Homo sapiens: one gene and its partners. The protein of the gene in region 3 purifies or fractionates together with the protein of the main gene of each other region. This does not show direct contact. Each region holds a gene or a part of one and is shown on either strand. Other genes may lie near its edges. The genes, in order: FAM171A2, TMEM192, LILRB3 and LRRC34.

Region 1 (7,944 bases), on a different chromosome or scaffold from region 3:
GCTCCCCATCACCATGGGAGGTGGGGCCTCAATCTAAGGCCTTCCCTGTCAGAAGGGGGTTGTGGCAAAAGCCACATTACAAGCTGCCATCCCCTCCCCGTTTCAGTGGACCCTGTGGCCAGGTGCTTTTCCCTATCCACAGGGGTGTTTGTGTGTGTGCGCGTGTGCGTTTCAATAAAGTTTGTACACTTTCTTAACAGTGTCTGATTTGCCGCCCTGCCTGCCCTCCCCAGGGCCCCAGAACAGGGGTTCACGTCCACTGCCAACACTCCCCTCCCCTACCCCACAGAAAGACATACACAGCCTTAACCTCACCAGTTTTATATTTGCTGCTGCCCACATCGGCTGTATCACATTACCCCCTAGTCCCCAGAGCTGTCCCAGCCACCAGCCCTGTGACATCGTAGCCCAGAGATGGGCTAGTCAGCAAGCAGCACCCCCTCCCCTCCCAGGGGTCCACAAAGAACGCCCCCTCCCTTCCCAGCCCTCACACTAGCAGCTGAGGCTGGGTCACCCCTCCTGCTTTCCCACAATAGAGCTTTCTATGTACAGCCACGTCTACACAGGCACTGCTTCCCCCCAGCCCTCCTCCCCGGCACCTCCCCGTGGGGGTCTGGACCCCCCCTCCTCCCCGGCTTGGAGGCAGACACAGGGTCCCTTGCAAGACACGACCCAGCACCAACCACGGAACAGCTCCAAGGCCCCTGGGCCCCTCTCCGGCCTGGGGCTGGGAGCTACGCGCGAGGGCCCCCGCGGGCCCCCGGGGCGCGCACCCTGGGTGCGGGCCCGCGCGGGAGGGGCGGTGCCAGGCCCTGCGCGGGCGCTACTTGACGTTGAACACCATCAGCGGCCGCTCCTCCCGCCGCTGCCACGGGCTCTTCTTGTCTCCCGCCTCGTCGCCCACCTCCGCCCCCAGCTCGTCCTCCGGGCTGGTGAGCGAGTCGCGCCGCAGCTCGCTGGCGCTGCTGCGGGAGCTGTCCCCGCGGCTGCGGCCCCGCCCCCGGGGTACCGTGGCCGCCCGGCCCTCGGGCGCCGCCACCTCGTCCAGCAGCGGCGTCAGCGAGTTGTCCTCCGGAGAGCAGAGGCCCGTGCGGCTCTCGCTGCTGCTGGGCTCCGTGTCCTCGCTGAGCGCCAGGCGCGGGGGCGCGGGCGGCGGCGGCGGCGCGGCAGGCGGGGCGCGCTCCCGCTCCTCCCTCGCGGGCCGGCGGCGCGCGGGCCGCGCCTCGTGGACATCTACGCCCGAGTCCAGGCTGGCGTCGGTGCTGCGTGCCCCGCCGCCCGCCTGCAGGTCGATGTAAGAGTGGCGCACTTGCGAGTTGGAGCGCCCGTCGAGGGACACGAACCAGGCGCGCGGGTGCGGCTTCACGCCCAGTTCCAGCAGCTTCTTCTCGGTCAGGGCCTGCAGCTCCCCGTTGAGCTGCGCCATGGTGGACTCGTTGAATAGCACAGGGATGGTGACTGAGCCACTGACGGGCGCCGCGCGCCCGGCCCCCCAGCCCTCGCCGCCGCCCCCGCCGCCCTCGCCCCCCGGGCCCGAGTGGCCCGGCATCTGCGGGCGCTGGGGGTCGGGCTGGGGAAAAGCGCGCGCCGGGCCGGGTGCCGTGCCCTCCGGCGGGGCCGGCTCGTCGCCCACGCCGGCGGCGCCCGCCTCGCCGCCGAGGCGCACGTAGTGCGCGGGGATCACCAGGGTGGGCATGACGTTGCGGTAGACGTTGTCCTTGAGGTGGTCGATGGAGCCGCAGAAGATGAGCTGCCCCGCCTGGCCCAGCGACGGCGGCCGCGCCAGCTGGTCCACCGACTGCGACAGCAGGAAGTCGGGGGTCTTGCCCTCGGCCGCCCCCTTGTGGCCCAGGTAGTGGTCGAAGGGCGGCGGCGGCGAGGGCGGCTCGTGCAGGAAGGCCGCAGCCCCCGAGGGCCCCCGCCGGTGCTCCTCTAGGCCGGGCTCCAGCCCGCCGGGGCCCTCGGCCGAGCGAGCGCCCTTGAGCCCGGCGCTCTCGCCCCCGCGGGCACCCGAAGGCTCGGCGGCCGGGCGGCTGGCAGAGCGCGGCTTGGTGCGGAAGAAGTCATCCCGGGAGGAGGCCAAGTCCCGGGAGCTGGAGAAGGCCGAGTGGAGGGGGCCTGGAGGCGGAGCCTCGGGGTCCCCCGACGGGGCGGGTTCCAGGGGTCCCCCACAGATGAGGTGGAGCTGGGACATCGAGGTGGCCTGGTCTCGTTTGTTACCGTCAGAGGGCCCCGAGAGCTGCAGCTTGCGGTGCTGTTGCCTCGGCTTCAGGCAGCGCCTCCTGGAAGGGAGGGAGCAGAAGGGGCCGCTCAGGAAAGGGTGAGGGCCAAAGTAGGCCCCGAACCCCCTTAGATGCAAGACAAGAGACGAATATAGTGGAAGAGGTGGGGAGAATGCCTGGGGCGCTCAGGAGAGATGGCGGGGAGCCGCCGTGTCCGTTTGGCGATCCCCTCAGGGTCAACTCTGCACTCCTCTGCATGTAGGATGTGCTGCGAGAACCAGGGATGAGCATCTAAGCTGTCTATGGGTGTGTCCGGCCTGGAGTCCTCTGGGAGAGAGAGCTGGGCTGGTAGGGGCAGTGGCAGATCTCTCTGGAGGGGCCGGGCTGCAAGTCCTTAAGCCCTGCCTCCCCTCCCACCTCCCCGCTGTCTTCAACCACCAGCACCAGCCCTTCAGGTCTTAGCATGTTTGCAGGAAGTCTTTTCCTGTCTGCCCCTTGAGGACCAGAAGTGGATTTTATGCATCTTTGGGGCCCCAGGGCCCGGTACAAGTGCAGGGGAGGGTGAGGGAAGCCCCGTGCTCACCGGCAGTAGTAGATGAGCAGACACAGCAGGATAAGCACCAGCAGGGCCAGGGCTGCCAGGATGGTGAGCAAGAAGATGGTGTGGTAGGTGCCGATGTCCTGGATGCCCGACGTGATGGTGACCAGCCCTGTGCCAGGCGAGGGCTTAGCGTTCAGGTGTAGACACCCTTCCTGCCTTTCAGAAGTCTGCTCTCCCAGCTCCCCTCCTCCGCGGCCTCTACGCCCACTGCCCCACTACTCTTACCAGCCGTGGGGGAGGCCATGGCGGCCACCCAGTACCCCAGCTGGGGGGAGACGAAGGTCCAGTAGAGCTGCCGGCCTTCCTTCCGGATTACACCAGTGCCATTGCGCACCCACAGCCCTGGGAGAGGCAGGGGTTTTGTCACACTTGAGTCGCTCCCACTCAAGTCCCACTTTCTTCTCTCAACTCAAGCACCTGCAGCCCCCTGAGGCACTTACCACTCTTGGGGTCAAATCTCCAGGCTGGAATGCTGGTGCCCACGGTGAGGGCACGAGTCTCGGAGGGCACGGGCAGGGACAGGTGAATGGGGCCTGAGAGCGGCACCTCTGTCCCATTACCTGTCAGCAGGTGCACGCTCACAGCAGTCAGGGGCATCAGCTCCAGCCAGGAGCCATTGCCTGAGGGAAGAGGGTACAGGGCTGAGGGCTGATCCTGAGCCTGGGGAGACCCCATCCGTGCTGGGCACCCAGCCTACCTGAGCTGGAGGCCTCAGTGCCCAGGAAGGCAGGGAAAGCCCGCATTTCCTGCTGGGTGCTGGCAGGCGTAAGTGACGCCCAGAGCTGGCTGTAGGTGGAGCTGACAGGCAGGCGGGCAGCCCGGCGCTGGAACTGCACCAAGGGCTGGGAGCGGGCACCTGGAGGGAAAGAGGGGCTGCAGTGGCTTGACCATGGACAGGGATCCCCAGGGACCAGAGCAGAAACCCATTATCTAAGGAAAAGGGGGACATGAGGTCAGGCCACTTTGGAAGGCCAGGGAGGGTGATGCCTTGGGGAGAAAGCTGGGCAGTCATGGAATGTTAACCTGGAAGGGACATGGACCTGAAATCTCTGTGTGACCCTCAGCAATTTACTTGTTTTAGTAGAAAGTTTCCTTATAGAACCTATAAAATGTTGCGATCCAGATCCTCAAACAGTATTGTCTACTATGTGGCAGGCACCAGGTTAGACACTGGGGGCCCAAAGATGAACGTCTGCTGTGATGGGAATGTTTTCTAGGTGTGCTGCCCATTATGGTACCCACTGGACACACGTGGCTGTTAAGCATTTGAAATGTGGCTAGTGTGACTGAGGAACTGGATTTTTAATTTTTAAAAATGTAATGATTTTTTTCTAGGTGGGTGCAGTGGCTCATGCCTATAATCCCAGCACTTTGGGAAGCCAAGGTGGGTGGATCACCTGAGGTCAGGAGTTGGAGACCAGCCTGACCAACATGGAGAAACCCTGACTCTCTTAAAAATACAAAATTAGCTGGGTGTGGTGGTGCATTCCTGTAATCCCAGCTGCTCGTGAGGCTGAGGCAGGAGAATCACTTGAAACTGGGAGGGGGAGGTTGCGGTGAGCTGAGATTGTGCCATTGCACTCCTGTCTGGGCATCAAGAGCGAAACTCCATCTCAAAAGAAAAAAAAAAAAAAGGCCGAGCGCGGTGGCTCACGCCTGTAATCCCAGCACTTTGGGATTCCAAGGCAGGTGGATCACGAGGTCAGGAGTTCAAGACCAGCCTGGCCAAGATGGTGAAACCCCATCTCTACTAAAACTACAAAAATTAGCCAGGTGCGGTGGCAGGCGCCTGTAATCCCAGCTACTCGGGAGGCTGAGGCAGGAGAATCGCTTGAACCCAGGCAGCAGAGGTTGCAGTGAGCCAAGATCATGCCATTGTACTCCAGCCTGGGCAACAGAGTGAGAATCCATCTCAAAAAAAAAAATTAATGAATTTTTAATTTAATTTACTTCAATTTAATATGTAGCTAGTGGCTACTGCATTAGACAGTTTAGGTCGTGTGTGTGTGTGTGTGTGTGTGTGTGTTGGGGTGGAGGGGACAGACATACAAACAATTCCAATACAATATGGTCACAGCTAACATTTATTAATCTTTAAGCTATGCTGGGCACTGTTCTAAGCAGGTTACCTATATTAACCCCTGCAATTAGGAAAATAGCCCCTGAGCTAGGTATCTATTATCAACCTCATTTTAGAGGTGCAGAAATGGAGGCACAGGGGTTCAGTAACTTGCACGAGGTCACAATCCTCGAGCCCGGATAGAAGCCCAGGCCATCGGGCTCCAGGCCCATCCTCTGCCATGCCATTCCTCCTGCCTTGCTATCCAAATAGAGGGATGCAGAGGACTAGGGGAGCTGGTCTCACTCAGCTCAGGGGAGGCCCTGTGGAGTCTTGGAGGATGTGGAAGACTCAGCCAGGAAAGAAAGAGGGAAAGGACATCCAGGAGGCCTGGCATGAGAAAGGCCCAGAGGCGTGGGGCAGAGGGCGGCCCGGGCTCTGGAGGGTGCAGTCAGCTCTGAGATGGCACCTGGGCTTGGTACTGAAAGCAGTAGGCGCCATGCAGGGGCTTCAAGCTAGGGGGCCACAAAGGGTCCACTGGTATTTTAGAAACCTGCAGGGGCACTTAGAAGCTTGGGATCAGAGTGACGAAGGTGAGCAAACAAGAGCAGCTTGGTGAGGCCGGGTGAAGTGACTCGCGCCTGTAATCCCAGCACTTTGAGAGGCAGAGGCGGGTGGATCACCTGAGGTCAGGAGTTCGAGACTAGCCTGGCCAACATGGCAAAACCGTCTCTACTAAAAATACAAAAATTAGTCTGGCGTGGTGATGGGTGCCTGTAATCCCAGCTACTCAGGAGACTAAGGCAGGAGAATCCCTTGAACCCAGAAAGCAAAGGTTGCAGTGAGCCGAGGTTATACCACTTCAGCCTGGGCAACAGAGCAATACTCCATCTCAAAAAAAAACCCAACAACAACAACAACAAAAACTAGCTCCATGACAAGGGCTCAAGCTGAGACTACAAACTGGGATGGGGTTCCTCAAACTCCGAAACCCACCATGGCCCTCTAAGCGGAATGGAGCCCCCAAACCCTCACTGTCCTCTACTACCCTCCACCTGATGTCTCCCCCTGGCCTTCCTCTCCAGTGGAGGTGCCTCTGCTTCCCCTTCACTCCTGAGTCGAGGGCTGACTGCTCCGTTCGACAAGCTCTCACCCAGCCAGGTCCCCTCGCAGGTTAGGGCCGTCTCAGCACTGAAAGCAGCTGCCCTCCACTCCACTGCCCTGCCTGCTCTGGAACTATTTCAGGGCTTGCAATGATCTGTCTTCCTACTTGTCTGTGAACGTCCAAAGGCAAAGAGCGGGTCTTCTTCCTCACCGTGGTTCCCAGCACCAGCCACAATGCCTGGCACAGCCTAGGAGTTGAAGTAAGTACTAGCTGAGCGAGACCAAAAGCCTGGGGGTAGACCAGGAACTGCAGGCTTGCTCTGGGCCTTGCACTTCCTGTGCACCTGTGCATCCAGCAGGTGCACAACAAATCTGTGTAGACCCATTGAAGATAAAGGTGGCAGGGAAGGTAGGAATAGATGGAGAATAGAAACCACGAGAAGCCCCGATAACTGTAAACATTTATTGAACACCTTCTGTACTGTGTTTTTTCACTTTGTGATTTCTTACTCCAATTTGATGATGTAGGCACTAACCTTCCACGTCTTACAAATGAGCAAATTATGGCTCAGAGAGGTGAAGTGACTTGCCCAAGGACACCCAGCTAATATAGGACAGTGGAGGTCTCTACACCTAGGTCAGGGGAAGGAAGAAGAGTTGGCGTGGGTGAGGGGGAGCCTTACCGGGAGAGCCTAGGAGAATGTGCACCAGGTCCTCATAGAGGATGAGCGTGGCCGGCCGCTCAGGGAGCAGGTAGAGGCTGACAGACGCATACACTGCGGGAGGGATGGCCGGTCAGCTCCAGGAAAACCCACCCCCTACCCCCCAGCCAGGCACCCCCTCCATCTGAGTCCCAGAGGCTTCACCCTCCCTCAGCCCCCTCTGTGTACCCCAGCCCAGGCAGCAGCTGCTGGAAAGCCTCCCCCTCCACCCCCAAGGAGACTATTTTGGGAAGGGGCTGATGGAGGGTCAGCTGCTGTCCCCCCCCTCCACCTGCCCCTGCACTCACAGGGCAGCTTGTCAACACGCCAGGGCACAGAGTTGGTGAGGAAGCCAGGGCGGGCAGCAGTGACCAGCACCCAGGTGCCCAAGCGATAACTGAGGGGCAGGGTGGCCACACCCTCTGAGTCTGTGGTGCCAGCTGCCAGCAGAGTCCGGTTCCCAAACACATCCACTGAGGCCCGGGCCAGGGGCACCAGCTCCCCGCTCACATACACCTGCACCTTGATCAGGATCTCTGTGGGCAAGATGGGGCAAAGGGAGTGAGGACGAGGGAGGGGGAAAGAGAACTGGGGGGAGCCCCAAGATCAGAGGAAGGAGCTGTGTTTGAGAGAGTCTTTTGGGCTGAGGCTAGAGAAGGCATGATTTAAGACCCAGCATTCACAGAGCACTCACTGAAACCTCCTATCAGCCCATGCCGGAGGTGGGACTATTCCTGTATTTCATCGTCTAACACATGCGCTGTGTCACATTTTCACAATTCTAAACTCGGGCTATGCCTATGATTGATGATGCCATCGTTATAACTGGCAGCATTTCTTCCTTTCTTACTGGTACCTGAAATCATGGTGCATCTTACAGTCAGTGGTGTATTGGATTTGATAATATATGCTCTTAGTCCATTTTACAGATAAGGAAACTGAGGCTTAGAGAGTTTAGATACTTGGACTACAGCTAAGTGGAGATCTGGGATCCAGACCTGGCAGTCTGCCTCTAGAAGCGACATTCTTAACCCCGGGCCTGGGGAGAGGAGAAGGACAGGAGGGCTGAGAAAGGCTAAGTAAAGCTGGGTCCGCAGGCGGAGAGGAGAAGGGTCAAGATTCAGCAGTTTGAAAGGGAGGATGGAGGCTAGGGCAGAGTTTGGGGTCTTGGGAAAAAATTGACAGGGGACACTAGGAAACTGGTCATTCCCATCATTCATCCTTTTCCCAGAATCCTTTGCACAAGCCTGTTTCCCT
Region 2 (6,101 bases), on a different chromosome or scaffold from region 3:
GTTTCCTACTAACTTTATCCATTTATTTTATTTTATTTTAATATTATTTTTTAAAAGATAAAGAGATGGGGCCTCACTAAGGTGCCCAGGCTGGTCTCAAACTCCTGGGCTCAAGCAATCCTCATACCTCGTCCTCCCAAAGTGCTGGGATTATAGGCATGAGCCACCATGACTGGCCATCTGTTTTCTTTTTTTTTTTTTTCCTTTTTTCTTTTTTTTTTTTTTTTTTTTTTTTGAGACGGAGTCTTGCTCTGTCACCCAGGCTGGAGTGCAAGTGGCACAATCTCAGCTCACTGCAAGCTCCGCCTCCCGGGTTCACGCCATTCTCCTGCCTCAGCCTCCCGAGTTGCTGGGACTACAGGCGCCCGCCACCATGCGCAGCTAATGTTTTGTATTTTTAGTAGAGGCGGGGTTTCACCATGTTAGCCAGGATGGTCTCGATCATCTGAGCTCGCGATCCACCCACCTCGTCCTCCCAAAGTGCTGGGATTCCAGGCGTGAGCCACCGCGCCCGGCCATGGCCATGTGTTTTCTAATAGGTTATTTTTATCTTATTCATTTAAATTACAAATGTGGGCTGGGTGTGGTGGCTCACGCCTGTAATCTCAGCACTTTAACAGGAGTTCCAGACCAGCCTGGCCAACCTGGTGAAACCCCGTCTCTACTAAAAATACAAAAATTAGCTGGGCGTGGTGGCAGGCACCTGTAATCCCAGCCACTAGGGAGGCTAAGGCAGGAGAATCGCTTGAACCTGGGAGGCAGAGATTACAGTAAGCAGAGTTTGCGCCACCGTACTCCAGCCTGGGCGACAGAGTGAGACTCCGTCTCAAAAAAAAAAAATTTTTTTTTTCAACAGAGAGAGGGTCTTTTCAACAGGAGGCTGGTCTCCAACTCCTAGGCTCAAGAGATTCTCCAGCAGTGGCCTCCCAAATTGCTGGGATTACAGACGTGAGCCACCATGCCCCGCCCCAATTTGAAATTTCTATCTGAACATCTAGTTCCTATATAATAACAGAAATGTCTTAAATATTTATTAATATGGGACTGGATTAGTAGGAGCAGAGCTCTAAAAGGTTAACAAATATTCCTGAATATATGTTTATATGCAATCGGCAATGGTACCTTTCCAATTGTATTTTAAACTGGTTCTTTTTGGTATGTAAGAAAATTGTTATCTTCATGTTTTACAGTCTGCCACCCTTGCTTTCTAATGGTTTTTCTTAAATTCTCTAGATGTCTAATGGTTAATTCTTAAATTTTCTAGATATTAATATATAACCATCCCATGCACAAATTAATCCTGCTCCTTTATCCAACTGTATTGATGGGCACTTTTGGACAATAGTAAATAGCAGTGATTATAAAAACTAGCAGTCTTATCTCTTTTATTTCTGATATGTTGTTATTTTTTAGTGTATCCTAGACATAAACTTTTAAACAAGACCTTAAAAAAATAATCTCTCAGTTCAGGACATCATAAACAGAAAGTGAAAACAGAGCCCAGGTTACAGCTGGATTACAGGAACAGGCTTTGAGCATGTGTGAGCATAGTTTTTCTACTACAATTCCAGTAGTGAAATCACTGAAGTTAGTGACATTAATTCATCAACGTATATTGAGTGCCTACTTTGTGCCAGACACTGTTCTATGTATGAAGGACACAGTAGTAAGCAAAAGATAGAGCTTACATTCTATCAGGAGACACAGACAAAGTAAACAAGTAAGTTACATGCAGTATTTTCCCCTTATCTACAGGGGAAACATTACAAGACCTCAGGTGATGCCTGGAGCCACAGGTCTGCAGGGGAATCATTGCAAGACCTCAGGTGATGCCTGGAGCCACAGATAGTACTAAACCCTACGAACACTATATTTTTTCCTATCCACACATAACTACAATAAAGTTAAATTTATAAATTAGGCACAGAGAGTAACAACATTAATAACAAAATAGAATAATTATAGCAATATACTATAATAAAAGTTACGTGTGGTGGTGTGGTGCACATCTATAATCCCAGCTACTCAGGAGGCTGACTGAAGTGGGAGGATTTTTTTTTTTTGGGGGGGGGACGGATTCTCACTCTTGTCACCCAGGCTGGAGTACAGCTGTGCGATCTTGGCTCACTGCAACCTCCACCTCCCAGGTTCAAGTGATTCTCCTGCCTCAGCCTCCTGAATAGCTGGGATTACAGACACGTGCCACCACGCCTGGCTAATTTTTGTATTTTCAGTAGAGACAGGGTTTCATCGTGTTGGCCAGGCCGGTCTCCCAACTCCTGACCTCAAGTGATCCACCCACCTCAGCCTCCCAAAGTGCTGGGATTACAGGGGTTAGCCACCACACCTGGCCACAAGTGACATTTGAACAAAGACTTGAAAAAGATATATGGGAGTTGATCCTTCCAGGCAGAGGGAACAGCAACCGCAAAGGTCCTCAGGTAAGAATGTGCTTAGCAATCCAAAAGCCACAGTGTGACCGACGCAGGGTACACAAAGGAAGAGTAGGAGAGAGGAGGTGGGGTGGGGTGGGAAGTGGAGATTTTCTAGGTCCCTGAAGGCCACTGTCCAGGCTTTGGCTTTTACTGAATGAAAAAGGGAACCATCAGAGTAGTGTTTTAGAAGGATATTGTTGGCTGCTTTTTGTGTGTGTGCATGGGGCTGGGGGGTCAGGGTGGAGAGGTAGTGAGAAGCAGAAAGATCACTTAAAAGACTCTTATAGGCCAGGTGTGGTGGCTCATGCCTGTAATCCCAGTACTTTGGGAGGCCAAGGAGGGAGGATCATGAGGTCAGGAGTTCCAGACCAGCCTAGTCAGCATGGTGAAACCTCGTCTCTACTAAAAATAAAAAAAGCACACCTATAATCCCAGCTACTCAGGAGGCTGAGGAAGGAGAATTGCTTGAACCTGGGCAGCGGAGGTTGTAGTGAGCCGAGACTGCGCCACTGCACTCCAGCCTGTGCGACACGAGTGAGACTCCATCTCAAGAAAAAAGAAAGAAAGAAAAAGAAAAAGAAAAACACTATTATAATAGGGCCAGGCACAGTGACTCATGCCTGTAATTGCAGCACTTTGGGAGGCCAAGGCGGGTGGATGACCTGAGGTCCGGAGTTCAAGACCAGCCTGGCTAACATGGTGAAACCCCCTTTCTACTAAAAATATAAAAAAATTAGCTGGGTGTGGTGGTATGTGCCGGTAATCCCAGCTACTCAGGAGGCTGAAGCAAGAGAATCACTTGAACCTGGGAGGCGGAGGTTGCAGTGAGCCCAGATCGCGCCACTGCACTCCAGCCTGGGCAACAGAGCGAGACTCCCTCCCCCAAAAAAAAAAAACAAAACCAAAAAACCGAAAGACTATTATAATAGTCCAGGTGAAGATTATAGTGGCTGGGGAAGTAGCATTGGGGGTGCCAAGAATTGGTTGGACTCTGGGTATGTTTTAAAGGAAAAGCCAGCAGGATTTGCTGATTAACTGTCTATAGGGTTTGAGAGAAAGAGGAGCTGCCATTACAGGGGTGGAAGAGACTGTGGCAGATAGCTCAGCTGGGGACATGTTCTGTTTGAGGTGTTTTTTTATATACCCAAGTAGTGATCTAGAAGGGGCAGTTGGACACATAAGTCTGGAGTTCAGGGAGGAAGGCCTGGCTGAAGATTCACATTTGGAAATTATCAGCTCATAAATTCTATCAAAGTCATGAGATTGTGTGAGACCACCAAGAGAGTGAACGCTGATGGAGAAGCCAAGAGGCCCAGGGGTTGAGCCCTGGAGAATACCAACAAAAAGCAACTTGCAAAGCAGACAAAAGAAGAAGCTAGTGAAGTAGAAGAAAATGAGGAGAATGTAGTGTCCTGGAAGCCAAGCTGAAATAAAGAGTCAAGGAGGAAGTGATCAACTGTGGGGAAAAGAGAGAGATCAGATTGTTACTGTGTCTATGTAGAAAAAGAAGACATAAGAAACTCCATTTTGATCTGTACTAAGAAAAATTGTTTCTGCTTTGAGATGCTGTTAACCTATAACTTTAGCCCCAACCCTGTGCTCACAGAAACATGTGCTGTATTGGATCAGTTTAATGGATTTAGGGCTGTGCAGGATGTGCCTTGTTAACAATATGTTTGCAGGTGGTATGCTTGGTAAAAGTCATCGCCTTTCTCCATTCTCGATTAACCAGGGACACAATGCACTGCGGAAAGCCGCAGGGACCTCTGCCCAAGAAAGCCTGGGTATTGTCCAAGGTTTCCTCCCACTGAGACAGCCTGAGATACGGCCTCGTGGGAAAGGAAAGGCCTTACCATCCCCCAGCCCGACACCTGTAAAGGGTCTGTGCTGAGGAGGAGTAGTGAAAGAGGGAGGCCTCTTTGCAGTTGAGATAAGAGGAAGGCTTCTGTCTCCTGCTCGTCCCTGGGAATGGAATGTCTCGGTGTAAAGCTGACCATTCCCATTCGTTCTATTCTGAGATAGGAGAAAACTGCCCTGTGGCTGGAGGCGAGATATGCTGGCAGCAATACTGCTCTGTTACTCTTTGCTACACTGAAATGTTTGTGTAAAGAGAAACGTAAATCTAGCCTACATGCACATCCGGACACAGTACCTTTCCTTGAACTTATTCATGATACAGATTCCTTTGCTCACGTTTCCCTGCTGACCTTCTCCCCACCTGTTGCCCCGCTACACTCCCCTCGTCAAGATATTAAAAATAATGATCAATAAATACTAACAGAACTCAAGAGACCGGCGCCGGTGCAGGTCCTCGCATGCTGGGTGTGCTGGTCCCCTGGGCCCACTGTTCTTTCTTTATACTTTGTCTCTGTGTCTTATTTCTTTTCTCAGTCTCTCGTCCCACCTGACGAGAAATACCCACAGGTGTGGAGGGGCAGACCCCCCCTCAATCAACTGAGCCAAGTGTTGCTGATAAGTTAAAAGAGGAGACGTATGCATTCATCTCCAATTTAAGCAATGTGGAAGGAAGCTATTGGTGACCTTGCCAAGAACAGTTTCAGTAGAGTAGTAGAGTGAAAGGTGAGACTGGATAGAGAGGAAGGGAGAAGAATTAGAGATAGGCTTCCCTGGTTTGCGAATGAAACAATTTTCCTTAGGAAACCTAGAGAATGTTTTGAGATCTCAAATTTGTGATTGTCACATATTCAAAGTTTGATTCTTCAAGAACTCAAGAGTTTACCAGATGTGAGTTTTGTATTCAAGATTTATTTATTTATTTATTTATTTATTGAGACAGAGTCTCGCTCTGTCACCCAGGCTGGAGTGCAGTGGTGCGATCTCGGCTCACTGCAACCTCCACCTCCCGGGTTCAAGCAATTCTCCTGCCTCAGCCTCCTGAGTAGCTGGGATTACAGGTGCACTTCACTGCACCTGGCTATTTTGTATTTTTAGTAGAGACGGGGTTTCTCCATGTTGGTCAGGCTGGTCTCGAACTCCTGACCTCATGATCCGCCTGCCTCGGCCTCCCAAAGTGCTGGAATTACCGGTGTGAGCCACTGCGCCCAGCCTTAATTTTGTATTTTTAGTAGAAATGGGGTTTCTCCATGTTGGTCAGGCTGGTCTCGAACTCCTGACCTCAAGTGATCTGCCTGCCTTGGCCTCCCAAAGTGCTGGGATTACAGGCGGGAGCCACCACGCCCAACCAGAAGATTCTAGTTGTTAAGAAAAAGAATATCCTGGGACAATAATAAGCAAAGGACTTGAATATACATGTCATAAAAGATTTATAAAAGACCATATAATTTGGAAAAAATGTTTAACACTTCATTAGTATCCAAAGAAATACAATTTGAAACAATGACACACTCATCAGATGGGTCAAGACTTAAATAAGGTAACACCCACTATTGGTAAGGGTATGGAGACCAGGTGAGCTGGCTCATGCCTATAATCCCAGCATTTTGGGAGGCCAAAGCAGGTGGATCACCTGAGGTAAGGAATTCAAGATCAGCCTGGCCAACATGGTGAATCCCCGTCTCTACTAGAAATACAATTTTTTTTCTTTTCTTTCTTTTTTTTTTTTTGTGATGGAGTCTCGCTCTGCTCTGTCGCCAGGCTGGAGTGCAGTGGCACCATCTTGGTTCACTGCAATCTCTGCCTCCCAGG
Region 3 (9,238 bases):
GACCCGGAGCTGCAGGGAAAGAGCCTGACCGTCCTGAACCACGGCCCTGCTCCCCTCCCCTGCCCCAGGTCACCGTCACTGCTGCAGGTGGGACGGGACAGGCCCCTGTGGAATCGGGTCTGGGAGGTTCCCTGGGAGGCCTCCTCTCCCAGGAGGTCACAGCTGGGGGTCAGAGCTGAAAGGAACTTTCCCACCCACAGGCCTCTCTCCTTTACACTTGGAGAAACTGAGGCCCAGGCAGGGGAGGGGCCTGTCCACATCACCACCTCCAGAGGAGCCTGAACCTAGGACAGAACCCACCCCTGCCTCCCCTGGACCCCGCCCATCTCCCACTCAGAGCCCCTCACTCACCATTCTGAGGGCCTGACCCTGGGGGGTTAAGGGGCTGGTCCTCAGGACCTCCTGGGTCAGGACAGGGAGGTGAAGGCTGGGGCTGTCTTGCCCCCCACATCAGCCCGGCTCCTCCTCCTGGCTGGGCCCCAACATCTCCCTCTGCCTCGACCCCCGCCCCTCACCAGCCCAGCCTCAGAGCCCCTGGGACACAAGCCCGTCCTTGAGGGGAGGGGAGTGGGATCCTTTGGGAGACTCAGACTGCCCTGGGGGAGGCGGCGCTCCCCAAGAGGCCTCAGTGACTCACCAGGTGTGGAGGGCGGCCCTGTGGGTGGGAGGCTGGAGCCTCCAGAGTGTCCTGGAAGGAGCACGGGAGGCGGGTGAGGGGCGGGGGCCGTCCATGGAGTGCACCCTTCCACTCCCACTCTCCTGCTTCCGCCCAGTGGATTCCCTGGAACCATCTCTCTGCCCACCTGGTGCCTTCTGCATGCCAGGCAGGGGAGAACGGGTGGCCACGCCTAGGAGAACCCCTGTTGGCCTCCTCCCCTCTGAGGGCTGGGTGCCCTCTGGCTAAGCCTCCCTCACAGCCTCCCTCGGTCCATCCCAGCCGAGAGCTCTCCTGGGGGCCTGGGCCGGAGCTGAGCCTTTGAGCTCAGAGAGGACGGGGTCAGCGCCCTCACCTGAGACCATGAGTTCCAGGGGCTCACTGGGGAAAGACAGCAGGTGGGGGTTGGAGCTGCGTGAGCCGTAGCACCTGTAGGTCCCCGCGTGGGCTGAGGTCACAGGACTCATGGGGAATTCAGCCTGGTACTTATGAGCTCCGTACATTGATCTCAGACGCAGTGGGGGATGGGCTGCCCCTTCTTTGGTCAGAAGGAAAGTGTCAAAATACCCCCGTGACTGACACAGCAGGGTCATGTTCTCTCCTGAGGCCACTGTGGGGCCCGGCTGTGCTGACAGGGAGACGGTGTCATAGATCTGTCCTGGAGAGAAGAAGGATGGGTGAGGGGCTGCCCCACCTTGCTCTGAGCTGACACCTCCCCAGGCCTCTCCCTGGGACCCTCAGTGTCTCTGTCCCTGTTTTCTCTGAGTCTCCCCTCCCCCCATCCCCTGTCTCTGTCTGTCTCTCCCTCCCTTGGGACCCCCACCCCTCATCCCGGCCATCACCACCTGGGCTCCCCCGGCAGGGCCTGTGCAGAGCCTGGGTCCCTGACTGAACCCGCTGGGCTCCTCACCTGTGATCAGGATGTCCAGGGGGTCACTGGGGGCCGACCACTCGGAGGAGAGGTTGTGTGCACCATAGCACCTGTACTGGCCCCCGTAGGAGCGGCTCACAGGGCCCAGGGTGAAGTTGGCCTGGGAGAGCCCAGCCTGGGGCTGCTGGCCAGGGCGCTGGAGGAAGTCACGTTCCCCCTCCTTATACAGAACAAATCTGTCGTAGCCGACATCAGAGCCACACTGGAGGGTCAGGCTCTGCCCAGGGGCCAGGACAGGGCCCTGCAGGGTCAGGAGGGAGGGCTTCCTAGACACGCCTGGAGGGAAAGAGGAGCCAGGACTGAGAGGGCTGGTTCCTCCCACGCCCCTTCCTTCTCCCGTCCTGGCCCTGCAGGTCTCACTGTCTCTCACGCTCTGAGTCTCTGACCCCAGGGCCTCCTTCTCACCCGGGGCTGTCTTGGAGTCATTTCAGAGGAGTGGGGTCTCCCTAGCCCTGGCCACTGTGCCTGATCTTTCCTCCTCTCCCTGAGAGCTGGGACCTCACAGCAAACACACCGATGCCTTCCTGAGTCCTCCCCTTCCAGGTGAACGTGGTCAAGGGCTCCTCCTCCCATGTCAGAGCCTCCCCATGGGGTCTCCCTCATGCCTTCAGCCCGTCCTTCAACACATCACTCTGGGTCCTTTCCAGATTCAGTCACCAGCCAAACTCCCCACAACCTGTCAGCTGCCCCGAAAGTGTGTTAGACAAGGCCGTGGCTCCCTCACCTGAGGGCAGAATCTCCAGGGGGTCACTGGGGTGGGACCACACCCAGGGGGTGTTTGTATAATAGTAATAGCATGTGAACCTCCACCTGTGGCTGGGGGTCACGGGGCCCACAGGGAACAGGGCCTGGAACCCCCCACTGTGGAGCTGCTGTGAGTCCAGGGTCCGGGGGAGCTGGTGTTCTCCTTCCTTCATCAGAACAAAATGGTGATATCCCTTCTGTGAGCCACATCGGAGGGTCATATTCCCCCCTGAGGCCACCACAGGGCTGGGCAGGGCTGAGAGGGTGGGTTTGTTGTAGAATCCTAGGAGAGAAAGAGGCACCGTGTTAAATGGGGCTCCCACCTCCCACATCATCCCCAGGGCTGGGCTGTGAGAGGGAGACGCCCCTGAGAGCCGACCCCCTTCCTGAGGGCAGAGCCTGGGGCTGGGACCCCAGAGTGTCCTCTCACCTGTCATCACCAGCTCCAGGGGGTCGCTGGGCTCTGACCAGCCTGCAGAGCTGTAATAGTGGCAGCGGTATCTCCCTGCATGGTGCTGTGTCATGGATGGGATGGAGAATCTGGCCTTGTTCTTGGGTTCCAGTGGGTTATTTCTGTCCCAGGGCTCTGGGCTTCCCTCTTTATCCAGTTGGTACTCCTGGGCCTCCAGGCTCCCCTGACACCAGATGGTCACGGGGCTCCCCCAGCTGATCACAGAGCCTGGCTCAGCCCAGAGGGTGGGTTTGGGGAAGGGCCCTAGATGGAAATCAGAGGCTGGATCCCAAGACATCCCCACGCTCAGATCCCAGCTCCCAGCCCCAGGACTTCCCCATCATCCCCATCAGTCACCCAGAACTACTGTCTCCTCCCCCAGCTGCCCATGGGTGGCCCCCTGTCCCAGTGAGGAGTAGGGACCTGGGACAGCTGGGGACAGACTCACCTGCCTGCATGCGGGTCCTGGGGCCCAGACTCAGCCCTGGAAGAGAGTTCCCTGTGAGGCATTTGCCCTGAAGCCTGAGCAGGTCCCCGCCCGGGTGCCTCCTGAGCTTTTGAGGTCTCCTGATGGACCAGGGCTTGTGTGTGGGGTGGGGTTCCTCCAAGACTCGGATCTCCCCCTCCCCATCTTGAAATCTCACCAAGGCAGAGCAGGGCTGTGAGGGCGGGCGTCATGGCGTCTCCTCCCGGTGACCCCGCGCTCTGCAGAGGGATGAGCCCTCAGTGCTGGCAGGACAGAGAGACACACAGGGTGTGGCCGCTCGGAGGCTGGGTCCTTCTTGTCATGGGGTTGTCTCATCCTCAGCCCACAGGAAGAGGAACTGCCACCCCAAGAACCTGGCTCTGATTTCCCCAGGGCTGAAGTGGGGGCAGGCACCAGGCTCTCTGCAGGCATTTCAGAGAGAAATGGGGTCTCCCTGCCCCCGGGCCACTGTCTGCCTGATTTATCTTTATCTCACTGAGGACGGGGACACAGCCGCAAATAGACCTGGTGCCTTCCTGAGTCAGCCCCTTTCAGGCGAGGGTGACCGTGGGCTCCTCCTCCCTCTCAGAGCCTCCCCATGGGGTCTCCCTCCCTCCTTCAGCTCGTCCATCAGTTCAGCGTTACGGGGTCCTTACCATGGCAGTCGTCTCTCCAGCCCTGGAGATGCTTCAGGGAAGACCCAGGTCCATGCTGCAGGCAGACTCAGATCAGCAGAGACGCACCTGACACCTGGCTGTGTAGTCCAGGCTGAGCTGCGTGTGGCAGTGAGCACAGAGAAATGCAGGGTCTACCGTGGTGGCTCATGCCTGGAATCCCAGTACTTCAGGAGGCTGTGGCGGGTGATGGCTTGAGGCCAGGAGCTTCAGACAGTCCTGGGAAACAGACTGTGACCCTGTTTCTACAGAAAAGAAAAAAGTGAGCTGGGCATGGAGGCTCATGCCTGTGGTCCCAGCTACTCAGGAGGCTGAGGTGGGAGGATCACTTGGGCCCGGGAGGCGGAGGCTTCAGGGAGCTATGATCACCCCTTGGCCTTCCAGCCTGGGCGACAGAGCAAGATCCTGTCTAAAAAGGAGAAATAGAGGGGATAAAGAGAAATATATATATATATGTTTCATTGTAATCTATAATCTGATTCTGGGGAAGGTGAGCTGATTTGTATTTAATTCCTGATTATCATCTAGGGTTTATGTGACTTTGGACATGAATGTCACCTCTGAGCCTGCTGTCATGAACCCCACTCATCACAGTGGCTGTGGGGGTCAGTGGTGCCCAGGACATGGGAGGCTCAGCCATGGTGAATTTCCAGACCAGTTCAGACAGGAGGGTGGGGACGGGAGAGGATCCTGGTGCTGGGCTCCACAGTCGAGGAGGATGATTGACGCCCCCACTCAAGAGCCCACATCGGCTCCAAATACCATGAAATTCTCCTTGTGATACGTCTGAAATATGCAGATCATCACAGCCACAGGCAGAGAAAGAGGAAAAACAGTTCCTCACATTGAGACGCATCCCCTTCCATGAGCAGAGTTCAATGCTGAGTGGCCACAGGTGTCTGGGACCACCGAGCGTCATTAGGGAGGAGGAGGCTCCCACCTCCATGTGGGACAGAAGAGGAACCCCACGTCCTCCCAGGCAGGGAGGGGTCAGGGCTCTGGGTGAGGCTGGAAGCGGTGGCTCCCCCTCCCCTGTGTGTGTGGACAGGCGCTGGGGGGTCTCTGCTCACTCACTGGAGGCCACGGTCAGCGCTCAGCCCCTCCCCTGTGTGTGAGAAACAGATTCGATCCACGGTGGTCAGACATGGGCGTCTGCCCCACAGGTGAGTGTGAGGCTGGCGTTGGTCCCATCGCTGCTGGGCACAATCTTGAGCTGACACTGAGTTTGGGGGAGTGGGGCAGGAGCAGCGGCAACAATCCCCTTCATCAGGCTGATGCCTGGACAGCCGTGGGAGAAACCCTTTATGAAAGGCCAGGTGCGTGGGAGGAGCCGCCCCACAGGAATGACAACCGTATGAGGACAAAATAGACAGTTGTTGAAATGCATTAGACAGACATCGTGAAGGTGAAAAACTATATTAAATTAACGCCATTAAAAAGGAATTTATGTCTGGGCATGGTAGTTCATGCCTGTAATCCCAGCACTTTGGGAGGTGGAGGCGGGCAGATCACTTGAGGCTAGGAGTTCGAGACCAGCCTGGGTGACATGGTGAAACCCCATCTCTACTAAAAATACAAAAAATTATCTGGGCGTGGTGGTGAGTGCCTGTAATCCCAGCTACTCGGGAGGCTGAGGCAGGAGAATCTCTTGAACCTGGAAGATGGAGGCTGCTGTGTGCTGAGATTGCGCCCCTGTACTTCAGCTGGGACAACAGGAGCGAAACTGTGTCTCAAAAAAAAAAGCAATTTACTAACCATATATACCTACTATGCAAACATAACAAAATCAAAGCATAATTTAATCCAGGGCAAGACAGCTGAAATAATAAATATATACATTGGGATAAAATATTCATGAAATTTTCCAGACTGTATCATGGAAAGAACAGAAATTGAACAATAGAAAATATTGATATATACACGAAGTTGAATGAGAAGAAAGAACGTGTCTGTCACGGTTTCAGAATGAAAGAAGGAAGAAGGATGTTAGTTCATGATATGCATGAAGAGCTAATGGTTGAAATTTTTACAGAACTGAAGAGAAAACATCAGTTTATAACTAAATTGAATATCTCGATCATGGTAAAGTGAAAACCATGAGGCATTAATTTAAAATAATCATAAAACTACCAGAGAAAATGTAAATTACCCTTGAATGAATGACAAGTTCATCGGGACTGGAGTTCCAAAGAGCAAACAGCAGCCCCAGAAGATACAGGAGAAACAACCACAAGCGTTTAACTGTGAGGAGAGAGTTCCTGTGCTGGGCCTAATTATTACTATTATAATTATTTATTATTATTATTATTATTATCTTTTGAGATGCAATTTCGCTCTTGTTGCCCAGGCTGGAGTGCAATGGCGCGATCTCGGCTCACCGCAACCTGGCCTAGTTATTATTAAAGGACCGAGTTGCAGTGTCAGCTGTGGATAAATCCTAGAACATAAGGAGACTCGGGGCACTCGTGACCCGTCAGGTCAGGCGGTGGCCTTATGAGGAATAAGGAGGGCGTTTTCAGTGTCCTTTTATCAGGTACTATGATAACAACAGAGAAAGAGAGAGATTGAGACAGACAGAGAGAGACGGAGAGACAGAGAGAGATTGAGACAGAGAGAGAGAGGGAGAGGGAGACACACACACACACACACGGAGAGAGACAGAGACAGAGAAGCAGGCATCGCTTGAGCTGCAAGGCTGCAGACATGTTTGCATCTGGGCTCTTTCTGAAAGCAATACTAAACAATGTAAATCAGGGAGTGGAATAATGAACCCCAAATGGAGAAGATGAGATGCTACTGTGAATAAGTCAACAGTACATACAAAAAACGAATAAGCATAGATCTATCTGTAATCTGTGTATATACAAGTATATGCATTTCTACTAAGAATCTGAAAGAGCAAGGAAATGGATTCGCGTCTCTGGAGCCTCCAGAAAGGAATGCAGCCACGTTATGGCCTTGATTTTGTCCTAAAAGACTGTGAGATAATGAGTTTGTGTTGCTGAAGCTGCTCAATACGTGTAATTTGTTATGGCAGCAATAGCAAACCAATACTAACACAAACAGCCTTTGAAAAGAAAAATAGATGATATTTCACACTTTTATTTATTTATTTATTTATTTTATTTTATTTTGAGACGGAGCCTCGCTCTGTCACCCAGGCTGGAGTGCAGTGGCGCGATCTCGGCTCACTGCAAGCTCCGCCTGCCGGGTTCACACCATTCTCCTGGCTCAGCCTCCCGAGTAGCTGGGACTACAGGCGTCCGCCACCACGCCCGGCTAATTTTTTACTATTTTTAGTAGAGACGGGGTTTCACCGTGGTCTCGATCTCCTGACCTCGTGATCCGCCTGCCTCGGCCTCCCAAAGTGCTGCGATTACAGGCGTGAGCCACCACGCCCGGATATTTCATACTTTTAAATCAGCAATCTGTGAAGAAGAGAAAGTTATACACTTTCACTCAACCAACCACATGTCCTTAAAATTTACAAAGCATCAATTGAGACACAGTGGAGGATTTGAAGAAATATTGATCAGACTTTGATAGATTAAGTGAACAAAATATTCGTGAGGGTTGCATGGCACAAATGTTCAATCTCATGCGCAAATATGATGTTTCGATTGTTTATATATTATGTAAATTTGTATAGAAACGTTTCTGGAATATACATATAGCAACAAAGTGGGAATGCATATTTCTTTATATATATTTTTTTGAAACAAGGTCTCTCTCTGTTGCTCCATCTGAAGTACAATGGCACTATCCCAGCTCACTGCAGCCTCGACCTCCTGAGGCCTAGGTGATTCTGCCACAACCATTTCCTGAGTAGCTGGGACTACAGGATCATGCCACCTTGCCTGGCTAAATTTTTTTAATATGTATTTTTTTGTAGAGACGAGGTTTCGCTATGTTGCCCAGGCTGGTGTCAAACTCCTGGGCTCACGGGATCTGCCCACCTTGGCCTTCCAAAGTGTTGGGATTACTGGTGTGAGCCACTGTGCGAGGCCAGGAATACTTATTTATGAAAACATATTGATCAGAAATATCTATCTTTTTTTTTTTTTTGAAACGAAGTGTAGCTCTGTCGCCAGGCTGGAGTGCAGTGGCACGAACTCGGCTCACGGCAATCTCCACCTTCCGGGTTCAAGCGATTCTCCTGCCTCAGGCTTGTGAGTAGCTAGAATTACAGGCGTGCGCCGCCACACCCAGCTAATTTTTTTGTATTTTTAGTAGAGACGGGATTTCACCATATTGGCCCAGATGGTCTCGGTCTCCTGACTTCTTGATCTACCCGCCTTAGCTTCCCAAAGTGGTGGGATTACAGGTGAGAGCCACTGTGCCCAGCCGTCTCTATCATTTTTACACAGCAAAGTAAGCATCCAAACTGTTACTACAGGTAACGTTTCCTGATTAGAAGTTCAATTAAATTAGCAGCCAACAATAAGAAGACATTTAGAGAAAAAGCAATACTTTGGAAACAAATAACATTCTAAATATTCATGGGTTATAGGCTGGATGTGGTGGCTCATGCCTGTAATCCCAGCACTTTGGGAGGCTGAGGCAGGTGGATCACTTGAGGTCAGGACTTTGAGACCAGCCTGGCCAACATGGTGAAATGCTGTCTCTACTGAGAATGCAAAAATTAGCTGGGTGTGGTGGCATGCACCTGTATTTTCAATGACTCGGGAGGCTGAGACGGGAGATTCACTTGAACCCAGGAGGTGGAAGTTGCAGTGAGCCGAGATTGTGCCACTGCACTCCAGCCTGGGTGAGAGAGTAAGACTCCATCGCAAAAGCAAAAACAAATATTCATGGGTTATAGAATCACACAACATTAAATTGATAGAACATTAACGAAAAATGTCAATGAAATTATAACATATGAACGTTTGTAGGATGTAAAGTAAGAGAGTGAGAGAGAGAGAGGGAGCACAACAATTACCAAATCAAGATGGAAAGAGGCACCACTACCCATCCTACAGACATAAAAGGACTAGTGAAGCAAAACTAGGAATCTATGCTAAGATGTTTTACAACTCACATTTAATAGAAAATATCTTGAAGTATACAAACTACCAAAATTTACTCAAGAACAAATATATAGTGTAACATTTCCTATTTTTATTAAAGAAATTCAACTGGCTGGGATTGGTGGCTCACACCTTTAATTCCAGCACCTTGGGAGGCTGAGGCGGGCAGATTACCTGAGGTCAGGAATTCAAGACCTGTCTGGCCGACATGGTGAAATCCCACCTCTACTAACAATACAAAAATTAGCCAAGTGAGGTGGCGCATGCCTGTAATCCCAGCTACTCAG
Region 4 (8,348 bases), on a different chromosome or scaffold from region 3:
AATGTCTGTGCATGCTGGTGCTCTGCCTGGAAGGTTCTGACATGGACACTCTCCATGAGTTTTTTCTCATCCTTCATAACTCGTAAATATTACCTTAGTAATATAAGTCTTAGGCAACCCTCCTGTAGCAGAATTACTTCTCCCCATTATCAGAGTACTCAGTCATTTTTGTAGCACTTTCCTCTACTTCTTCATTGGTGTTTCCCCAACTAAAATATAAGTTTCATAAGGGCAGAGGCAGAGGCCATGTGATTCACTGTTGTATCATTAGTGTCCAGCACAATGACTGGTATGTGGAGATGATAAGTACCGAATTAATGTTTTCCCAGAACCACACTGGCTGCATCTACCACCTTAAAAAGTTAATCTTGGCCAGGCGCTGTGGCTCACTCCTGTAATCCCAGCACTTTGGGAGGCCGAGGCAGGTGGATCACCTGAGGTCGGGAGTTTGAGACCAGCCTAGCCAACATCATGAAACCCCGTCTCTACTAAAAATACAAAAAAAAATTAGCTGGGCGTGGTGGCAGGCACCTGTAATCCCAGCTACTCAGGAGGCTGAGGCAGGAGAATTGTTTGAACCCGGGAGGTGGAGGTTGCAGTGAGCCGAGATCACGCCATTGCACTCCAGCCTGGGTGACAAGAGTGAGACTCTGTCTCCAAAAAAAAAAAAAGTTAATCCTTCAGAATCTATTATACCAGAGAGCCCCCTGGCCCATCTTATTTTCATGTCACATTGATTAACCTGAGGCTATACAACAGGTTCCCAAGAGTAGGCCTAAAGATTTGAAAGCATGTCAGAGAAAGTGAAGCCTGGAATTTGAAGACATGCAAAAAAACACATTTTTCATTATCAGGCCAGGTGAAGGTTCAAAGCGACTTTTATCTTTTTTAATAATTTTTAGAGACAGGGTCTTACCATGTTGCCCATGCTGGAGTACAGTGGATGTTCACAGGCACGGTTGTAGTGAACTGTAACCTCAAACTCCTGGGCTCAAGAGATTCTCCCACCTCAGCCTCCTGAATAGCTGGGACTACAGGTGCATGTCATGTCGCCCAGCTTCAGAGCAGCTTTTAGCATCATCATTTTAAGTTTTTGTGCTACAATATAAGTAACTACTAAAAAGTATTTTATTTTTGTTTTGAGTCAGAGTCTCACTCTGTCGCCCAGGGGCTGGAGTGCAACTCACTGCAGCCTCCACCTCCTGGTTCAAGCAATTCTCCTGCCTCAGCCTCCTGAGTAACTGGGATTACAGGCTTCCGCCACCAGGCCCCGACTAATTTTTGTATTTTTAGTAGAGACGGGGTTTCACCATGTTGGCCAGGCTGGTCTTGGACTCCTCACCTCGGGTGATCCACCTGCCTCAGCCTCCCAAAGTGCTGGGATTATAGGCGTGAGCCACTGCAGCCTAAAATGTATTTTCAAAAGTAAAAAATTATATGAATAAAGTAATATTTGTTTAATTAAAGTGAACATGATCTTTTTCTAAAAATTCCATACAGTTTAAGATGAGTTATATAGATGGAAGTTTAGGAATATTTTTATTAAGTATTTTTCTATGTTATTTACTATAGTCTGATTTTATTAATAATCTGCACTATTATGTCTAGGGGAAAAACACCTTTTCTCTGATATTAGACATAAGAGGCAAAATTAATCATTCATAAGACTCTGATTTAGCTGTTCTCTAATGACCCACTATCTGGATGATTTTCTCATAACCAGTTTACTCACCAGATCACAGTCACCCAGATCTAATTTCTCTAATGATGAATTAATTTGCAGCATTGCAGCAAAAAACATTCCACCTTTATTTTCAATTTTGTTTCCAGTCATTCTTAGGTATTTCAGAGTCCGATTCTTCTGAAAAGGAAAAAAAACTTATTTAATAATTGTTAATCCACAGAATTCTATATATTACATGAATTAGGAGACTGTATTACTATTTGCAGACTCCAATTTTCATGGAGCTAGAACACGATATATATTTTTTTTGAGACAGAGTCTCGCTCTGTCGCCCAGGCTGGAGTGCAGTGGTGTGATCTCGACTCAATGCAAACTCCACCTCCTGGGTTCACAGCATTCTCCTGCCTCAGCCTCCCAAGTAGCTGGGACTATAGGCACCCACCACCACGCCTGGCTAATTTTTTTCTGTATTTTTGGTAGACATGGGGTTTCACCATGTTAGCCAGGATGGTCTCGATCTGACCTCGTGATCTGCCCAGCTCGGCCTCCCAAAGTGCTGGGATTACAGGCATGAGCCACCGCGCCCAGCCAGAAGAGGATATATACCTTAAAGGTAACATTCAATCTACCATAATAGATAAAAATCTAGTTTAACAGTTGAGTAGAAAGAATGCCCAAGAAACAGATGCCCAAGCAATAACCAGTAAATAAAACATATATTAATAAACTTTCACTGGAAAAATCTGTAAATTTATCTTAAGAAAATTATAGCACTTCACTTTTTTAAATTGAGGTGAAATTCACATAACATAAAACTGACCATTTTAAAGTATACAATTCAGTAGCATTTAGTACATTCACAATATTGCACAGTCATCACCTGTAGCTAGTTCCAAAACATTTTCATCATCCCCGAAGCCGGTCCTATACCATTAACCAGTCACTCCCCATTCCTCCTATATCACTTTTAAAGTAATATAATTTGATAAATATTTCACAAAATCACAGACATTTCATCATTCTAATGAGTAACTATTAGGACATATAATAGTGTAAATAATTATCACGATTCAAACCCCTCTGAGATCAGGAAGAAGAAAAGGATGTCCTCTCACCACTTCTATTTAACATTGTACTGGAGGTTCTAGCCAGAGAAATTAGCCAAGAAAAACAAAAAGAAAAACCATACAAATTGGAAATGAAGTGAAACTCTGTATGTGACACCATCTTGCATAGGGAAAATCCTAAGGATTCCACCAAAAAAACCTGTTAGAACTAACACAAGAGTTCAGCAACATAGCAGGACACAAGATCAATATACAAAAACAGCTGTATTTCCATATGCTAACAATGAACAACCTAAAAATGAAATTAAGAACAACAGTTCCACTTACAATAGCATAAAAAAAAGTTAGGAATAAATTTAACAAAAGAAATGTAAGATTTGCACATTGAAAACTACAGAGCATTGCTGAAAGAAATGAAAGGCCTTAAATAAATGAAACATCTTATGTTCGAGGTTTGGAAGACTTAAGATGGCAATACTCCCCAAGGTGATCTACAGATTTACTGTAATTCCTATTAAAATCCCAGCTGCTGGCCGGGTGAAGTGGCTCATGCCTGTAATCCCAGCACTTTGGGAGGCCGAGGTGGGCAGATAATCTGAGGTCGGGAGTTTGAGACTAGCCTGACCAGCGTGGAGAAACCCTGTCTCTACTAAAAGTACAAAATTAGCCAGGCATGGTGGTGCATGCCTATAATCCCAGCTACTTGGGAGGCTGAGGCAGGAGAATTGCTTGAACCTAGGAGGTGGAGGTTGTGGTGAGCCAAAATCGCGCCATTGCACTCCAGCCTGGGCAACAAGAGCAAAACTCCATCTCAAAAAAAAAAAAAAAAAAAACTCCCAGCTGCTTTTCTTGCAGAAATTGATTAACTGACCTAAAATTCATATGGAAATGCAAGGGACACAGAAGAGCCAACACAATCCTGAAAAAAGAACAAGGACACATTTCTTGATTTTAAAACCTACTACAAAGCTATAGTAATCAAGATAGTGTGGTACTGGCATAAGGATAGACATACAGATTAAAAGAATAGAATTGAGAGTACAGAAATAAACTCCTGTAATGATGGTTAGCTGATTTTTGGACAAAACTGTCAAGACAGTTCAATGGGAGAAAGAATAGTCTTTTAACAAATGGTGTTAGGACACGTGGATATACACATGCAAAAGAATAAAGTTGGATTCCTACCTCATACCATATTCAAAAATTAAAATGGATCAAAGAAAGAGCTAAAACTGTAAAACTCTTAAAAAAACATAAATCTTTGTGACTGGGTTTTCAAGATGAACCTTGAAAACATTAAGCCAGTCCCAAAAGGCCACATATTGTATGATTCTGTTTATATGAAATGTCCACAATAGGCAAATACATAGAGAGACGAAGTAGGTTAGTGACTGCCAGGGGCTGGAGAGCAGGGGGTAGAAAAGATGGAGAGGGATTGCTAATGAGTTTAGGGCTTTTCTTTTTGGGGTGATAAGAATGTTTTTAAAATAGTGATAGTAGTGATACTTGCACAGCCCTGTGAATATATTAATACTTAAAAAACCACTGAAGACTTTCAAAGGGTATATTTTATGTATGTGAGTTAAATCTTAGTAAAACTATGACTTCAAAAGTGTTCATGCAATGTCTACACTTGAATAAATTAAAGTATAATAAAAATATACATTCCTACAATATTAAAATAAGTTCACTTCAACATTGGACACTGTTGGTTCCAAGCTATCAGAAGTTAGAATTTCCAAATACAATGTTAGTTTGAAATACATAAATGCTTACATGTAGCACTTTAGCAATCAATTCTCCACCTTCGGGCCCAATATCATTAAACATGAGGTTTAAGTAAATGAGATTAAGTTGTTTCTATAAGAGAAAAGAAGCTATTACACATTATTATTATTGGAAATTGGTCAGTTTTACATACATGTATATACATATACACATACAGTATATACTTTATTTGAATAAGTGTTTTCCTCCAAAGAAAATCTTTATAACCAAGAAAAACTGTATCCTAGCAAAAACAACTACATTAAGGAAAAAAATCATTCTCATGTAATCAAAATATAATTACAATATAAATGAAAGAAAAAACTATATTTACCTTTGATCAATCTGAAAGATGTGTGGTGTATATATTTAATCATGGTGTACAAGTTTGCAAAAGATAACTTAGGAGCTCTAGCTACTGGCTCCATTGAGACCAAATCCACAATGGGTTTCCAGTATATTTCGAGTGTTCTAGCACAGAGTCAGGACCCTTGACATCAGGTAAAACTAGTGTTTTATGTGTGTGTCATTAGACTAATTGGTTTCATTGTAAATGGAACTAAGGACATTTTGTAGTAAAATAATACCTGAAGCAGTTTCGCAGCATAGTATGCACCAACATCACATAGAAGGTTATATCCAACATCCAAACCTGAAGCACAGATGAATAGAAGTGGATATTCATTATAAAGAATACTTAAAATCAGATCAATGAAAAGCAGGAGGTATTGATTCTTATGGAAACATACCATTAATATACAGACAATTCTTTAAAATTTTGGAAAGAATCCAAAAATCTTCACCTGTAACTCTTTCTACTGGCACTAAGCGATTGTTACCAGCAATGTTTAATGTGATTCCTGCTGCTAGCCTGTTAAAATACAAAAAAAAAAAAAAAAAAAAAAGATTTTGAAATAGAAACCCAGTAAAGAAGTAAAAGTATGTTTCCTTCATGTATAAATAGTCATATCACAGATATCATTTACTGGAAGCAAGCATATAATAAGTAGACTTATACAGTATATTTATACCAGGTAACTTAAAACTACTGAACATTCTGCAGACTGCAAAGTGCTTTAAAAGATTCCATATATTTAGCTCTCTCACACACACTCACACTCACACAAACAGTATCCCCACTTTATAGATAACACTGAAAACTTCAGTGATTTGCTTAGACTCACCCAGCTCAGGTTAGGCGTGGTGGTTCACGCCTGTAATCCCAGCACTTTGGGAGGCCAAGGCGGGCTGATCACCTGAGGTCAGAAGTTCGAGACCAGCCTGGCCAACATGGTGAAACCCTGTCTCTACTAAAAAATACAAAAATTAGCCGGGCATGGTGGCGAGCACCTGTAATCCCAGCTGCTCGGGAGGCCAAGGCAGGAGAATTGCTTGAACCCAGGAGGCTGAGTTTGCAGTGAGCCGAGATCACGCCACTGCACTCTAGCCTGGGCGACAGAGGGAGGCACCATCTCAGAAAAAAAAAAAAAAAAAAAAGATTCACCCTGCCCACAAACAAAAAAAAAAGATTCACCCCACCCACAGAAGTTAAAGATCACTCTGGAGCCCAAGCTTGGGTACTCCTGGTCTAGTGCTCTTTCCTGAATACTATACCACCTCTAAGACCTACTAACAGTGTTGCTCGTGTACTTACTTACCTGAATCAAATGGTATGTTCATTTTACCAAGCATTTTCAAATGGCTATAAAATCACTCAATATGTTAGGATTTTCACACACATGAATATAAGCAAACACTATTAATGTAATCAAGTATTTGTCTTTCTTACCCCTTTTTAATTTCTTCATCCACTTCTTGGAGTATATGCAATATAAAAGGATTAATTTTCTGGGATTTTTCCATACACAGATTAGAATAATGTTTCTGGAGACCAGATTCTGGAGATTCTGAAAAATATATGCATCCTCTATCACATATAAATTATTCTAGAAGCTTTAAAAAAAACCATAAAAACTACCTCTTTCAAATATATGAGTTGTATGTGTGTATAGTGGGGGTAGGGAAGAAAAGGAAACAGAATTAAGGTTAGAAAAAGAGAAGAGAAATAAAAATAATGAATGGGAGAGATAATTAAAATGCTGTTTGGAGAACTAGGGCCATTGAAGCACCCATTGAGGCTTGGCAGACACTGGCTCAAGTGAGCACCCTACGTTGGAAGTGACATAAAGGGAGAACTAAGCTCCATTATGTGCCAGGCCTGGTAGCTGAGGAAAATGACTTCCAAAGAAATTGTATATTTTGTCCAAAACCATGCAGCTAATAAAGGCAGAGTGCAGAATCAAACTGATTCCAAAACCTCTTTCCACTGTGCCCTAATGGGTTACAGGGACTCAAGGTTTCTTTTTTTTTTTTTTTTTTTTCAACTCAGTATCTCAGCATCCACGAGAGGAAAAGGTTTCTTAAAATAGCTTCACATAAAAACAATTTTATCTAATAACCTAACTCAAAAGGGATCTGATAAAGCACCTACTCCCACAAGCTTCTTGGATACCCTCTACACCATCCCAAGTTTGAATGTAACTGTCATTTCTTCATACCAAATCGAGGCCTGGCTCACAGAAGCTCTTCTCCTACCCAGCCTTCCATTTCCTCTTTCTAAAGGTGACTTTTCCCTAAGTTCTTAAGAAGACAGACACAAAGCAGGAGTTGAGATCTCCTTTCTGTTATACATGCAGATTTCCTTAATGACCTTGCTGTTCTCAGTAATACCTCAAAAGCATCTTCTGCAAGGCCTACATCTTCTGGGGTGGAAGTTATGCTGTTACTTTTCTTAGAAGTACAGGCCACTGTCTTTGTTTTCTATACATCTACCTTTTGTGGATGTCTTTTAAAAATTTGTGCACAGAGATCTCATTGCTCAACCAGCCTAGCTTTTTAGGAGCTGGCTTCTCTTCTAAGTCTCTACATCTCAGAAATGTTGTTTACTGAGTGTCCTTTGCACTCTGAAGAATAATGAGTTTGCTAAACGGATCTGCAGAACGAGATTTAACATGAGGAACATTACATTTCAGATGAAAGCAAACAAAATTTTCTTATAGTTTTTAATAACCTTTTTAAAAATAAATTTAATATACTTATTCCAGACAATTTGGAAATTTCTTTTTTTTTTTTTTTTGAGATAGGTTCTTGATCTGCCACCCAAGCTGGAGAGCAGGAGCGCAATCTCGGCTCACTGCAACCTCTGCCTCCCGGGTTCAAGCGATTCTCCTGCCTCAGCCTCCCGAGTAGCTGGGACTACAGGCACACACCACCACACCCAGCTATAAAGACGGGGTTTCACCATGTTGGCCAGGCTGGTCTCAAACTCCTGACCTCAAGTGATCAGCCTGCCTCAGCCTCCCAAAGTGCTGGGATTACAGGTGAGCCACTGAGCCCGACCGGAAATTTCTAACATTAAAAAAAAATACATGTTAATCTGCAATCCCACTGCCAAAGAACAACCACAATTGAGGTCTAGGCATACATACTTCCTATAGTTTTTCTTTTATATGCATATTAAGTATTTTTTAAACAAAATTGGAATCTTTGGATATAACTTTATATGCTGTTTTTTAAATTAACATTATATTGTAAGCAGTTTTCCCATGTCACTAGATATTCTCTGAAAAATTTAAATAGCATAATTTCTGTCATGTGGATAGATGTACGTATTAAAAAAAGCTTCACCTATTTTAGAAAATTTTCATGTATTTAAATGATATTGTAGCACAATATTTCCCAAACTGTATTTTGTGGAATATGCATGTTCTACAGGATGATCAAAGGTGTTCCAAATAGAATAGGTCTTATTATCAAGTAAGTCTGAGAAG

What was found.
Region 1: the proteins of LILRB3 (region 3) and FAM171A2 purify together in Homo sapiens (affinity purification with mass spectrometry, with the first as the bait; 2 studies listed by BioGRID). This does not show direct contact.
Region 2: the proteins of LILRB3 (region 3) and TMEM192 purify together in Homo sapiens (affinity purification with mass spectrometry, with the first as the bait; 2 studies listed by BioGRID). This does not show direct contact.
Region 4: the proteins of LILRB3 (region 3) and LRRC34 purify together in Homo sapiens (affinity purification with mass spectrometry, with the first as the bait; 2 studies listed by BioGRID). This does not show direct contact.

The regions. Positions count from the first base shown.
Region 1 is NC_000017.11:44,352,910-44,360,853, forward strand, and holds the end of FAM171A2 (protein FAM171A2 precursor), read right to left. Parts: intron 7,224-7,944; coding exon 6,996-7,223; intron 6,763-6,995; coding exon 6,670-6,762; intron 6,197-6,669; exon of another isoform or gene 6,036-6,196; intron 3,680-6,035; coding exon 3,521-3,679; intron 3,444-3,520; coding exon 3,264-3,443; intron 3,166-3,263; coding exon 3,049-3,165; intron 2,933-3,048; coding exon 2,806-2,932; intron 2,283-2,805; coding exon 824-2,282; 3' UTR 306-823; downstream 1-305.
Region 2 is NC_000004.12:165,069,240-165,075,340, forward strand, and holds the end of TMEM192 (transmembrane protein 192), read right to left. Parts: 3' UTR 1,369-6,101; downstream 1-1,368.
Region 3 is NC_000019.10:54,219,518-54,228,755, forward strand, and holds the start of LILRB3 (leukocyte immunoglobulin-like receptor subfamily B member 3 isoform 2 precursor), read right to left. Parts: upstream 3,491-9,238; 5' UTR 3,460-3,490; coding exon 3,426-3,459; intron 3,266-3,425; coding exon 3,230-3,265; intron 3,046-3,229; coding exon 2,761-3,045; intron 2,614-2,760; coding exon 2,311-2,613; intron 2,270-2,310; exon of another isoform or gene 2,101-2,269; intron 1,863-2,100; coding exon 1,566-1,862; intron 1,314-1,565; coding exon 1,011-1,313; intron 689-1,010; coding exon 638-688; intron 403-637; coding exon of another isoform or gene 352-402; intron 88-351; exon of another isoform or gene 1-87.
Region 4 is NC_000003.12:169,802,321-169,810,668, forward strand, and holds part of LRRC34 (leucine-rich repeat-containing protein 34), read right to left. Parts: intron 6,426-8,348; coding exon 6,308-6,425; intron 5,390-6,307; coding exon 5,268-5,389; intron 5,171-5,267; coding exon 5,106-5,170; intron 4,612-5,105; coding exon 4,528-4,611; intron 1,862-4,527; coding exon 1,733-1,861; intron 1-1,732. UniProt on the Homo sapiens protein: Highly expressed in stem cells where it may be involved in regulation of pluripotency. In embryonic stem cells (ESCs), important for normal expression of the pluripotency regulators POU5F1/OCT4 and KLF4.